Homo sapiens: one gene and its partners. The protein of the gene in region 1 purifies or fractionates together with the protein of each later gene. This does not show direct contact. Each region holds a gene or a part of one and is shown in the gene's direction. Other genes may lie near its edges. The genes, in order: ORAI3, CRACR2A and MARCHF8.

The links.
Region 2: the proteins of ORAI3 (region 1) and CRACR2A purify together in Homo sapiens (co-immunoprecipitation; one study listed by IntAct). This does not show direct contact.
Region 3: the proteins of ORAI3 (region 1) and MARCHF8 purify together in Homo sapiens (affinity purification with western blotting; one study listed by BioGRID). This does not show direct contact.

What each region holds. Positions count from the first base shown.
Region 1 is NC_000016.10:30,951,984-30,955,505, forward strand, and holds the end of ORAI3 (protein orai-3), read left to right. Parts: intron 1-1,201; coding exon 1,202-1,861; 3' UTR 1,862-2,955; downstream 2,956-3,522.
Region 2 is NC_000012.12:3,620,478-3,624,128, reverse strand, and holds part of CRACR2A (EF-hand calcium-binding domain-containing protein 4B), read left to right. Parts: intron 1-3,651.
Region 3 is NC_000010.11:45,525,232-45,528,882, reverse strand, and holds part of MARCHF8 (E3 ubiquitin-protein ligase MARCHF8), read left to right. Parts: intron 1-3,651. UniProt on the Homo sapiens protein: E3 ubiquitin-protein ligase that plays several important roles in innate immunity and adaptive immunity.

The sequences.
Region 1 (3,522 bases):
ACTTTAGCATTCACTATAGCAAGAACAGCAAACACATACCTAGTGCTTACTCTGTGCCTGGCACTGTTCTTTTTCTTTTTCTTCCTTTTCCTTTTCCTTTCCTTTCCTCTTTCTTTTTCTTTCTTTCTTTTCTTTCTTATCTTTCTTTTTTTTTTTTTTTTGAGACAGAGTCCCACACTGTCACCCAGGCTGGAGTGCAGTGGTGCGATCTCGGCTCACTGCAACCTCTGCCTCCTGGGTTCAAGCAATTCTCCTGCCTTAGCCTCCCAAGCTCCTGAGTAGCCGGGATTACAGGCGCACACCACCACGCCCGGCTAATTTTTATATTTTTAGTAGAGACAGGGTTTCACCATGTTGGCCAGGCTGGTCTTGAACTCCTGACCTCAGGTGATCCGCCCAACTCGGCCTCCCAAAGTGTTGGGATGAAAGGCGTGAGCCACCACTCCCAGCCCATTTCATGTATATTTCATTTAATGTTTATACCAACCCTATAAGGCAGGGAGGTGCTGTTATCAATCTCTATTTCCAGATAGGAAATTGAGGCACACAGAGAACTGACTTGCTCAAGATTACACAGCTAGAGCAGAGAATGATCCCAGGCAGCCCAGCTCCAGAATCTGCTGTTTGATCCCTATGCAGTAAACCTGTTAGAAGCATGTCATCCAGCCCTTTTTTTTATTTTTATTTTTAATTTTTTTTTGAGACAGAGTCTTGCTCTGTTGCCCAGGCTGGAGTGCAGTCACATGATCTCGGCTCACTCAAACTTCTGCCTCCTGGGTTCAAGCAGTTCTCCTGCCTCAGCCTCTCAAGTAGCAGGGATTACAGGCATGTGCCACGATGCCCGGCTAATTTTTGTACTTTTAGTAGAGACGGGGTTTCGCCATGTTGGCCAGGTTGGTCTCAAACTCCTGACCTCAGGTGATCCACACACTTTGGCCTCCCAAAGTGCTGGGATTATAGGCATGAACCGCCGCGCCCGGCCATCCAGCCCTCTTGATAGGGAGGTGGGGAAACCAGAACAGAACAGAGCCTTTGCAAAGCTGTCCATTCGTTTACTCAACAGAGACTGAATGTCTCTGGTTTCTGCCAGGCACAGTTCTAGGTCCTAGGGATATGTATCAGTGATGTATCCCGATAGGCGGAAAAAATCTCTACAGTTGAGGTTATGGGGAGATCAGTACATCCCCTCTTGTCCCTGCAGGTGGCCATGGTGGAGGTGCAGCTGGAGAGTGACCACGAGTACCCACCAGGCCTGCTGGTGGCCTTCAGTGCCTGCACCACCGTGCTGGTGGCTGTGCACCTCTTTGCACTCATGGTCTCCACGTGTCTGCTGCCCCACATTGAAGCTGTGAGCAACATCCACAACCTCAACTCTGTCCACCAGTCGCCACACCAGAGACTGCACCGCTACGTGGAGCTGGCCTGGGGCTTCTCCACTGCCCTGGGCACCTTTCTCTTCCTTGCTGAAGTTGTCCTGGTTGGTTGGGTCAAGTTTGTGCCCATTGGGGCTCCCTTGGACACACCGACCCCCATGGTGCCCACATCCCGGGTGCCCGGGACTCTGGCACCAGTGGCTACCTCCCTTAGTCCAGCTTCCAATCTCCCACGGTCCTCTGCGTCTGCAGCACCGTCCCAAGCTGAGCCAGCCTGCCCACCCCGGCAAGCCTGTGGTGGTGGTGGGGCCCATGGGCCAGGCTGGCAAGCAGCCATGGCCTCCACAGCCATCATGGTACCCGTGGGGCTCGTGTTTGTGGCCTTTGCCCTGCATTTCTACCGCTCCTTGGTGGCACACAAGACAGACCGCTACAAGCAGGAACTAGAGGAACTGAATCGCCTGCAGGGGGAGCTGCAGGCTGTGTGAGACTGGTGTTAGCCACCGCTCACTGCAAGCACTGCCTCCCTCCGGGGTCTGTAAGAGGCCGCAGGGGCCTACAGACCTCATCCCCCCATCCCCTGGCTGGAGCCACTTCCAGTGGCCACTCTCAGGCAGAGTTCAGATTCCTGCCCGCAGGGTCCTCTGGGCTGGGCCTTGGGGCAGCTCCCACATTCCCAGGGATTTTCCCCATCAGTCTGTCCCTTGGGTTTTGCAAGCTACTCTGCACCTGGGCTGGCCTCAGTTGAAGGATCATGCAGTAGATAGAGGGGAGGCAGGGAGAGCTTGTGGGACCTTCAGTGCTGACTTTAGCCACCATTTCCATTCCTATACAGGATGTGAAGGTCAGAAGGCAGCCAATTGTTGGTTTAATTTTTTTTTTTTTTTGAGACAGTCTGTTTCCCAGGCTGGAGTGTAGTGATACAGTCACAGCTCACTGTAGCCTCGACCTTCCAGGCTCAAAAGATGCTCCCACCACAGCCTCCCAGGTAGTGAGTAGCTGGTACTACAGGTGTGTGCTGCCACACCCGACTAATTTTTTTGTAGAGACGGGGTTTCGCTGTTCCCAGGCTGGTCTCAAACTCCTGGGCTCAAGTGAACCTCCCGCCTCGGCCTCCCAAAGTGCTGGGATTCCTTTCTTTATTTCTGTAGAATCTATTTTATGGTTGGCATTTTGGGGGAAGATTTCGATGGGTTCCACATTCTTGCTTTAGTTGTTGTAGAGGGATTTGGGTGTTTCTACCCAAGGCATTGGTCTAGCTTTTCCTACAATGAACCTATCTTTGGAGGTTCAAGCTCCCCACCTTCCCCCACTGTGGTGACCTGTGGCCACTTGCAGAAGGGATGGTGCCTGACCCACTGCCCTAGCCCCACGCTATGCACCAAACTTGTTCTCCCCGTCCTGGTCCAGGGCTGGGGTCTTTAGAGACTGACAGCCTCTGCCCCAGGCCTGAGTCCTTAGCAAGGGTTGGGTAAGGAGGTTTTAAGGGAGAAGGTCCAGTCCTTAGCCCTTGAAATACAAAGCTCTTCTGACACTGAATTTGGATGCACCTTGTTTTATATAATAAATCGTGTTTCACAGATGTCCCTGTTGCTGTGAAGGGGATGCAGGGCAGGCCTTCTTAGGATAACTTTACTTGTTCCCAAGAGCCGGGTGGTGGCAAGTTTGGGTGGACAGGACCTGGGAGGGGAGTGGGTTTCAGGTGTAACCCTGTCAGATGCTAACAAGGGCCAACAGCTTCTGAATGGGGAGAGTTATTCCAAGGCTACAGGCTTTGAACTCTTGTCCCTGAGTTCAGAGTCTCTATCTCTTCCACTGAGTATTTATTTATTTAGAGACGGAGTCTTGTGTTGCCCAGGCTGGAGTGCAGTGGTGCGATCTCAGCTCACTGTAACCTCCGTCTCCCAAGTTCAAGCAATTCTCCTGCCTCAGCCACCAGAGTAGCTGGGATTACAAGTGTGTGCCGCCACACCCGGCTAATTTTTATATTTTTATTAGAGACGGGGTTTCGCCATGTTGGCCAAGCTGGTCTCAAACTTCTGACCTCAGGTGATCCACCTGTCTGGCCTCCCGAAGTGCTGGGATTACAGGCATGAGCCACCACACCCAGCCCTCCCTGAGTGTTTAGTATAAGCACTCTTTTTTTTTT
Region 2 (3,651 bases), on another chromosome or scaffold:
TGTGTGGGGTGGGAACAGATGCTCGGGGGAGGTAGTGGAGTTCCCTGAAAGGAAGTTCTTACTATCCCATCTTGATCACTTCCTGGCCATGAAACTTTGGCCAATCATTCAACAAGGCAGCAGACCAAATGCTCCCTCCTGGCCCCTAAATTTCTACAGTGTATGATGGCATTTGACTATCTCTCTGGGAGGCCAAGACGGAGCAGGAATGTGTGTGGATGAGGAGATTCTGGAGGGTCCTTCCAGCCCAGAGGGAACCAAAATCCTTTGGTGCAAGAGAGCACCAGCACTGCTTGATGAGATGGGAAGACTGTGGCCTTGCCCTTGTTCTGCTATTTCACCCAGTCTAGGCAACTTTACCTTGCCTGCAGGCCTTCTGCAGAAGAGGCCCAGCAGATGCCCTCTGTGCCGATTCTCCTGAGTGCCTTATAGGAAGTCACCGCAGGCAGTCTTTCGGCCAACTCGGCATTTCCAACCCACCCCCAATTTCTTATCTCAATTGGGTAGAATTGGTTTAACCATTCCAATCTGGAAAAGAAACTAGTCAGGCTCTAAGGCCCCACGTGTGGCCATGGGACAAACTGGACATCAGAAGACTCTGGGGCCTGTGTCGGGTAGAGAAAATAGAAATTAGAACGCCAGCCTGTACAAGCCTGTATGGGCTGGTATTTCCCCCAGAGCCGGATTGCTGGCCCCCAGTGTCTGCAGTCCTGGGATGCTGAGCTTCTTGTTTAGAGCCTCTTGTCGTTCTGATGGCACTAGATTCCTGGGCATGTGAGTCGAGGAAGTGAAATAGAATTGGCGGAGTTAAGCCGAATAGACCAGTGTTTCCGAGCTGGAAAAAAACGTGGAGATTAATCTAATGCAACCTCTTGTTTTATAAGTAAGAAAAACTATGATCCAAAAAGAGGAAGTGACTTTCCCAAAGGCGCCCACACTTGTCAGCAGCACCACCCGATCTAGAAGCGAGGGCTTTGCCACACTGCACTGCTTCTCTCTTGTCCTGTGGTCCATGGCTGAAATCTGCTCCTGAAAAGCAGGTGTTCATTTACTTTTCAGTCCTTCTTGCTTCTCTCTCAAAGCAGAACAGTTCTTCAGCTCAAGGGGTCCTGGCCCACTTCCCTCTCCCTTCCTGGGCTGCTAGCTAAACCTCATTCTGCGATCTTTGTCATTGGTGACAATGTACAGCATGGTGCAAAAAATAGCAGTTTGATTTTTTTTTCTCCACGTTCCAAGTTGAGCTTGAAGTGCTGGCAGTTTAAAATGAACCACACAAATAAATCTTGTTTTGACTCATAGTCCAGGGGATGGATAAATATGGAAACCCCCAAGATATAATTTTGCAGGCATTTTTTTTCTTAGCATAACTGCATGCTTTAATGTGCTGAAAAAATTTTTGCTCTAGCTCCAGAGAAATAGCAGCACTATCCCAGCTAAGTGCTTTTTCATGCCTCCTAGCAAATAGATATTAAAACGCACGCACACACACACACACACATGCACATAGGCAACAACCAACCAAACCCAGCAGCTGCACATTCTGAGCTGAATGCCAATCCACTGCTCCAAGTTGACAGCTCTTGTTATTTAAAGTCAGAGATGGGTGATCTTTTGAATTTCAACAAGTCTGTCTTCCAACAAGCTCAAGTTCACAGAAAGGCAGCTGAAATAACTGAAGGTGGAGGGAAGGCTCTCTGTTAGAGGGTCATAGAACAGAACCTGGCTTTGGAACAGAGAGACACAGAAAAGAGGAGAGACTCAGATGAGTCACATGGAGAGATGGTGACAGAGCTAGGGCAGAACCCACATCTCCTAAAGAGAGATTGTGTGCCTGATGAAGGAGCTAAGATGACTTCACTCCAACCTGTCATGCTGATGGGATTTTTACCAACATCTCTCACAGTCTCAAGACAACAGAGTTTGAGTAGACCTGAGACCTGTTCACCAAAGCCCTAGGGGCTTGAAGGAGGTGTTGCTTCATCTAGGAGGTAATTTTGAACATCTTGTGCTGAGTGGTATGCAGGCTGAAAACCTAGTTAGGTATGAGAAAGGTGTAAAGTTTAGACAGATAGTTCCAGACTTTTGGGGTCAAAGTCAGAGAGGACCATGAGACACCTACCCCAATACCAGCTCCTCTCCCTGCCCCTGTGCCAGAGACTGATGACCTTGGGCCAGGGTGATGGTGACTGACTGTGATAGTTAGCACACTCCCTGGTCTTATGGGTATTCTCATTTATTTTTGCCAAATATTTGGAGATGAGTCTGTTTCTCCTTTATCGGTGGCAGGCCAGGGTCCCTGCAGGGAAGCCAGTTGTCCAGAGTGGCTGTGTAAGAGAGGAACAATACAAAGAACAGAAACCGCAGCTCCTGCTGAGTGCTTTGCTTTTAAATTTTTTTTTTCTGCTCCTTCTAAGCTCCTTTATTTTTATATCCAGGAATTGCTTTGGTTTTTTTTTTTTTTTTTTTTTTTTTTTTTTTTTGACAGAGTCTCTCTCTGTCACTGAGGCTGGAGTGCAGTGGCACAATCTTGGCTCACTGCAAGCTCCGCCTCCCAGGTTGAAGCAATTCTCTGCCTCAGCCTCCCAAGTAGCTGGGACTACAGGTGCCCACCACCACACCTGGCTAAATTTTGTATTTTTAGTAGAGACAGGGTTTCACCATCTTGGCCAGGCTGGTCTTGAACTCCTGACCTCATGATCCACCCACCTCGGCCTCCCAAAAAAAAAAAAAAAGAAGAAACCTGCCCTTTCTTTTCCCAGGACGCAAGAGGCACCATTGCTGTTTATGGTGCATAGGACCCAGATGTTGGGCTTATGACCCATTCCCTACCCCATCCTATTGGGTCATTCAGTATCCATCATCCCCTCTGCAAGCGAGGAAACAGAAGCCAGTGCCCATTCCAAATAATACCAAAACCTGGGGTAGAATTCTGCCCTGGGATTTCAAGTCTGATGCTCATATTTTCAGAGTTTCCATGTCAAGAAATCCCACAAGCCTTAATCATTCCTCACACATAAATCTACAAATATCTCTCTCCCATGTGCTCTAAACAGCAAGCCGCTTGGCCCATTTCCCTGCTTCCTCCTCCTTTCTTCCCTTTCCGTGAAAAGCTCTTCGCACAAGTATCCCGTGGCACAGCACGGTCAGAGGAGGGGGTGTTCCCATTAGTGAACGCTCTAGCTAATAGGGGGCCACAGGGTTCCATATATGCCATCAGTGGCTTTCTCACTTTCAAGTAGTTGGAATATGTACAATCCACTTAGGACATCAACTGCAGTGTCCAGAATTTAATCTATTTTTGATGGGTCAGAAGACACTGTAAGATCTTGTAGCGCCTTTGAGTCATCATTGCAAACACAAGTTACCATCTGACCAATAGATACCATTTTTAGAGGGTTCCAGTTAATAAGATACTAAGTAGCAGAGACTTGATTGGAAATAAGAATCTAGAGGAAAAGGTTGGAGAAGTGAGGACCCATATACTAAAGAGTTCTCATAATTCAGTGCTTATGGTGTTGAATGTTCTTTTTGATTCTCTGAGCCTTAACTTTCTCATTTGTTAAATAAGAATTTTTTTCCCCTATTAAATGGCAGTAAAAACGAATGCACAGATTAAGGAAACATTGAGGCTTAATTTCAAACATAATAGCA
Region 3 (3,651 bases), on another chromosome or scaffold:
AATGATACTGATTCTTCTAACCCATGATCATGTTTGTGTCATATGTGATTTCTTTCGTCAGCGTTTTGTAGTTTTTCTTGTAGAGATCTTTCACATCCTTGGTTGAGTGTATTTCTGAGTATTTTATTATTTTTTTGTAGCTATTGTAAATGGGATTGACTTCTTGGTTTGGTTCTTGATTTGGTTCTCAGCTTGATTATATCATTGTTGTATAGAAATGCTACTGATTCCTCCTCACAACAAAAAATACAAAAATTAGCTGGGTGTGGTGGCACGTGCCTGTAAGTCCCAGCGACTTGGGATGCTGAGGTGGGAGGATCACTTGAGCCCAGGAGGTCGAGGCTGCGCTAAGCTATGACTGCGCCACTGTGCTCCAGCCTGGGTAACAGAGTGAGACCGTTTCAAAAACAAACAAAGAAACAAACCCCAACTAAACAAAAGAAATACTACTGATTTTGTAGGTCGATTTTGTATCCTGAAACTCTACTGAATTAATTTATCAAATTTACGAGTGTTTTGGAGGAGTCTTAGGGTTTTCCAGGTATAAAATTATATCAGCAAACAGAGATAGTTTAACTTCCTCTTTTACAATTTAGATGTCTTTTCTTTCTTTCTATTGCATTACTGCTCTGGCCCGATAGGACTTTTAGTACTGTGTTGAGTAGGAGTGGTAAGAGTGGGGATCCTTGTCTTCTTCCATTTCTTAAGGGGAATGCTTTCAACCTTTCCCCATTCAGTATGATGTTGGCTGTGGGATTCTTGTATATGGGTTTTATTATTTTGAGGTATGTTCCTACTACACCAAGTTGTTGAGTGGTTTTTATCATGAAAGAATGCTGAATTTTATCAAATGCTTTTTCTGTATCTATCGAGATAATATGGTTTTTGTTTTTAATCCTGTTTATGTGGCAGATCACATTTATTGATTTTTGTATGTTAAACCCTACTTGTATCCCTGGAATATAACCCACTTGATTGTGGTGTACCATGTTTTTTGATGTGCTGTTGGATTTGGTTTGCTAGTATTTTCTTGAGCGTTTTTGCATCTGTGTTCATTAGGGGTACTGATTGATTCTGTTTCTGTTTTTGTGTGTCCTTGCTTGGATTTGGTGTTAGGGTGATACTGGCTTCAGTTAGAGAGGATTTTCTTCAATTTGGGGGAACAGTGTTGTCAATAGGATTGGTACCTATTCTTCTATGTCTGGTAGAATTTGGCTGTGAATTCATCTGCTTCTGGGGTTTTTTGTTGTTGGGAGATTTTTTTTTATTTTTATTACTGGTTAAGTCTTACTGGTTATTGGTCTCTTCAGGCTTTCTCTTTCTTAGTTCATTCTTGAGAGGTTGTGTGTCTTTAGGAATTTACCTGTTTCATCTAGGTTTTCTAGTTCGTTAGTGTAGAGATGTTCATGGTAGACTCTGATGATCTTTTGTATTTCTGTGGTATCATTTGTAGTGTCTTTTTCATTTCTGATTGTGCTTATTTGAATTTTCTTTCTTCTTGGTTAATGTAGCTAGTAGGCTGTCAATTTTGTTTATCTTTTCAGTGAAGCAACTTTTTGTTTCTTTATCTTTTGGGTTTTTATGATCTGGATTTCATTTAGTTCTGCTCTTCATCATTTCTTTTCTTCTGGGTTTGGTTTGTTCTTGTTTTTCTAGTTCCTTGAGGTACTATGTCAGGTTAACTTGTGGTCTTTCTATTTTTTTCGATTTAGGCATTTAACGCTATAAACTTTTCTTTCTTGAATCCATTTACAGTCAACACTATAAGCTTTTGCTGTATTCCAGAGGTTTTGGTATGTTGTGTCTCTACTTTTGTTTAAAAAATTTTTAAACTTCCATCTTAATTTCATCACTGACCCAAAAATCATTCAAGAGCAGGTTAATTTCCATGTATTTGTATAGATTTGAGAGTCCTTCTTGGAATTGACTTTAGGTTTTTTCCACTGTAGTCTGAGAAGACAACTTGAAATGATTTCAGTTTTTTAAAAATTTATTGAGACTTGCTTCATTCCTTAAGATAAGGTCTGTCTTGGAAAATGTTCCACATGCTAATAAGAAGAATGTATATTCTGTGATTGTTGGGTAGCTTGTTATATAAACATCTGTTAGGTCTATTTGTTCTACAGTCCAATTTAAATCCAGTGGGGTTTTTTTTTTCTTTTTTTTTCTGTCTCAGTGGTCTGTCTAGTGCTGTCAGTGGGGTGTTGAAGTCCCCTCTTGTGCTATAAAGGAATGCCCAAGGCTGGGTAATTTATAAATAAGAGATTTTATTTGGCTCACTATTCTGCAGACTGTACAAGAAGCACAGTGGTTGTGTAAAAGTGCCTGGCCTCCTCTCTTCAGCCTGGCTTGTTGGCTGGTAGCAGCAGCTGCTCAGGGCTCGGAAGCCTGTGTACTCCCATGTGAGTTTGAGCAATGCCTCTGTCAATCTCCAGGCAACTCACTCTATTAGGCTGGAGACCTGCGAGGGTCAAGGGGGTCTCCCACAGCTAGCGTTGCAAAAGTCCATGGTGGGAATGTGGAGCCCTGGGAGTCTCTCATCTACCCTTTCCCAGCATCTAGAAGCTTCTTTCATCTCTCAGCAATCCTGGCTGAGCACGTGCCTTGCTTCCTTCTCCTTTGTGATCAGTGATTCCTGTTGCTTTTCAGTTGAATTCCAGTGTTCTGTTTTAGATGACCTATTTGAAGGGTGAATATCTACTCGCCGTTTTGGAGCTTTCCATGGAAGAGGCATGTACTAGCTGCATCTAGTTAGCCATCTTGAACCAAGCTTCCAGTTTCTCATATTATTAACATCTTAAAATAGTGTGCTGCATTCATCATAGTTAGTGAACTAATATGAATACATTATAGTTTTAAAGTCCATGCTTTATTCAGATTTCCCTACTTTTTAACTAATGTCCTTTTTGTGTTCCAGGATCTCATCTCTAGGATGTAGCATATTACATTTTGTTGTTGTATCTCCTTAGGCTCCTCTTGGCTATGACAGTTTCTCAGACTTCCCTTGTTTTAGATTACCTTGACAGTTTTGAAGAATACTGATCAGGTATTTTGTGGAATGTCCTTCTATGGGAATTGTCTGATATTTTTCTCATGACTAGACTAGGGTTATAGGTTTTGGGATGGAAGTCCACAGATACAATGTACCAGTTCATCACAACAGATCGAGTATACTATCAACATGATTTATGACTGATTTTCTTGACCACCTGGCTGATATAGTGACTATCAGGTCTCTCCACTATAAAGTTACTCTTTTTCTCCCCTTTTGTACTTCATTCTTTGGAAGGAAGTCACTAGGCATAGCCCACTTTAAAGAATGGGGAGTTGTGCTCCCCCTCCTTGAAGGTGGAGTCTTTACATGAATTATCTGGAATTCTTCTACATGTCTGGAACCCAAATTGCAAGATTGTCCAAAAAATACATTTTTCAATTTTCTGCCCTGTCCTCCTTGATAAAGGGATCCTGAAAGAAATGATCTGTATCCCAGGATTCCTGAAAGGTGATAAGTAAGAAGGTAATTCAATGATCAACTTATATTTAAAGTAAGCTACACAGAAAATAAAAGTGGTATTTTATATATTTATAAACAGTCCTAGTTTTGGCCCTGTTGTCCTGCTACTGAGGTCAAAAGGAGGATTTTACCATGCA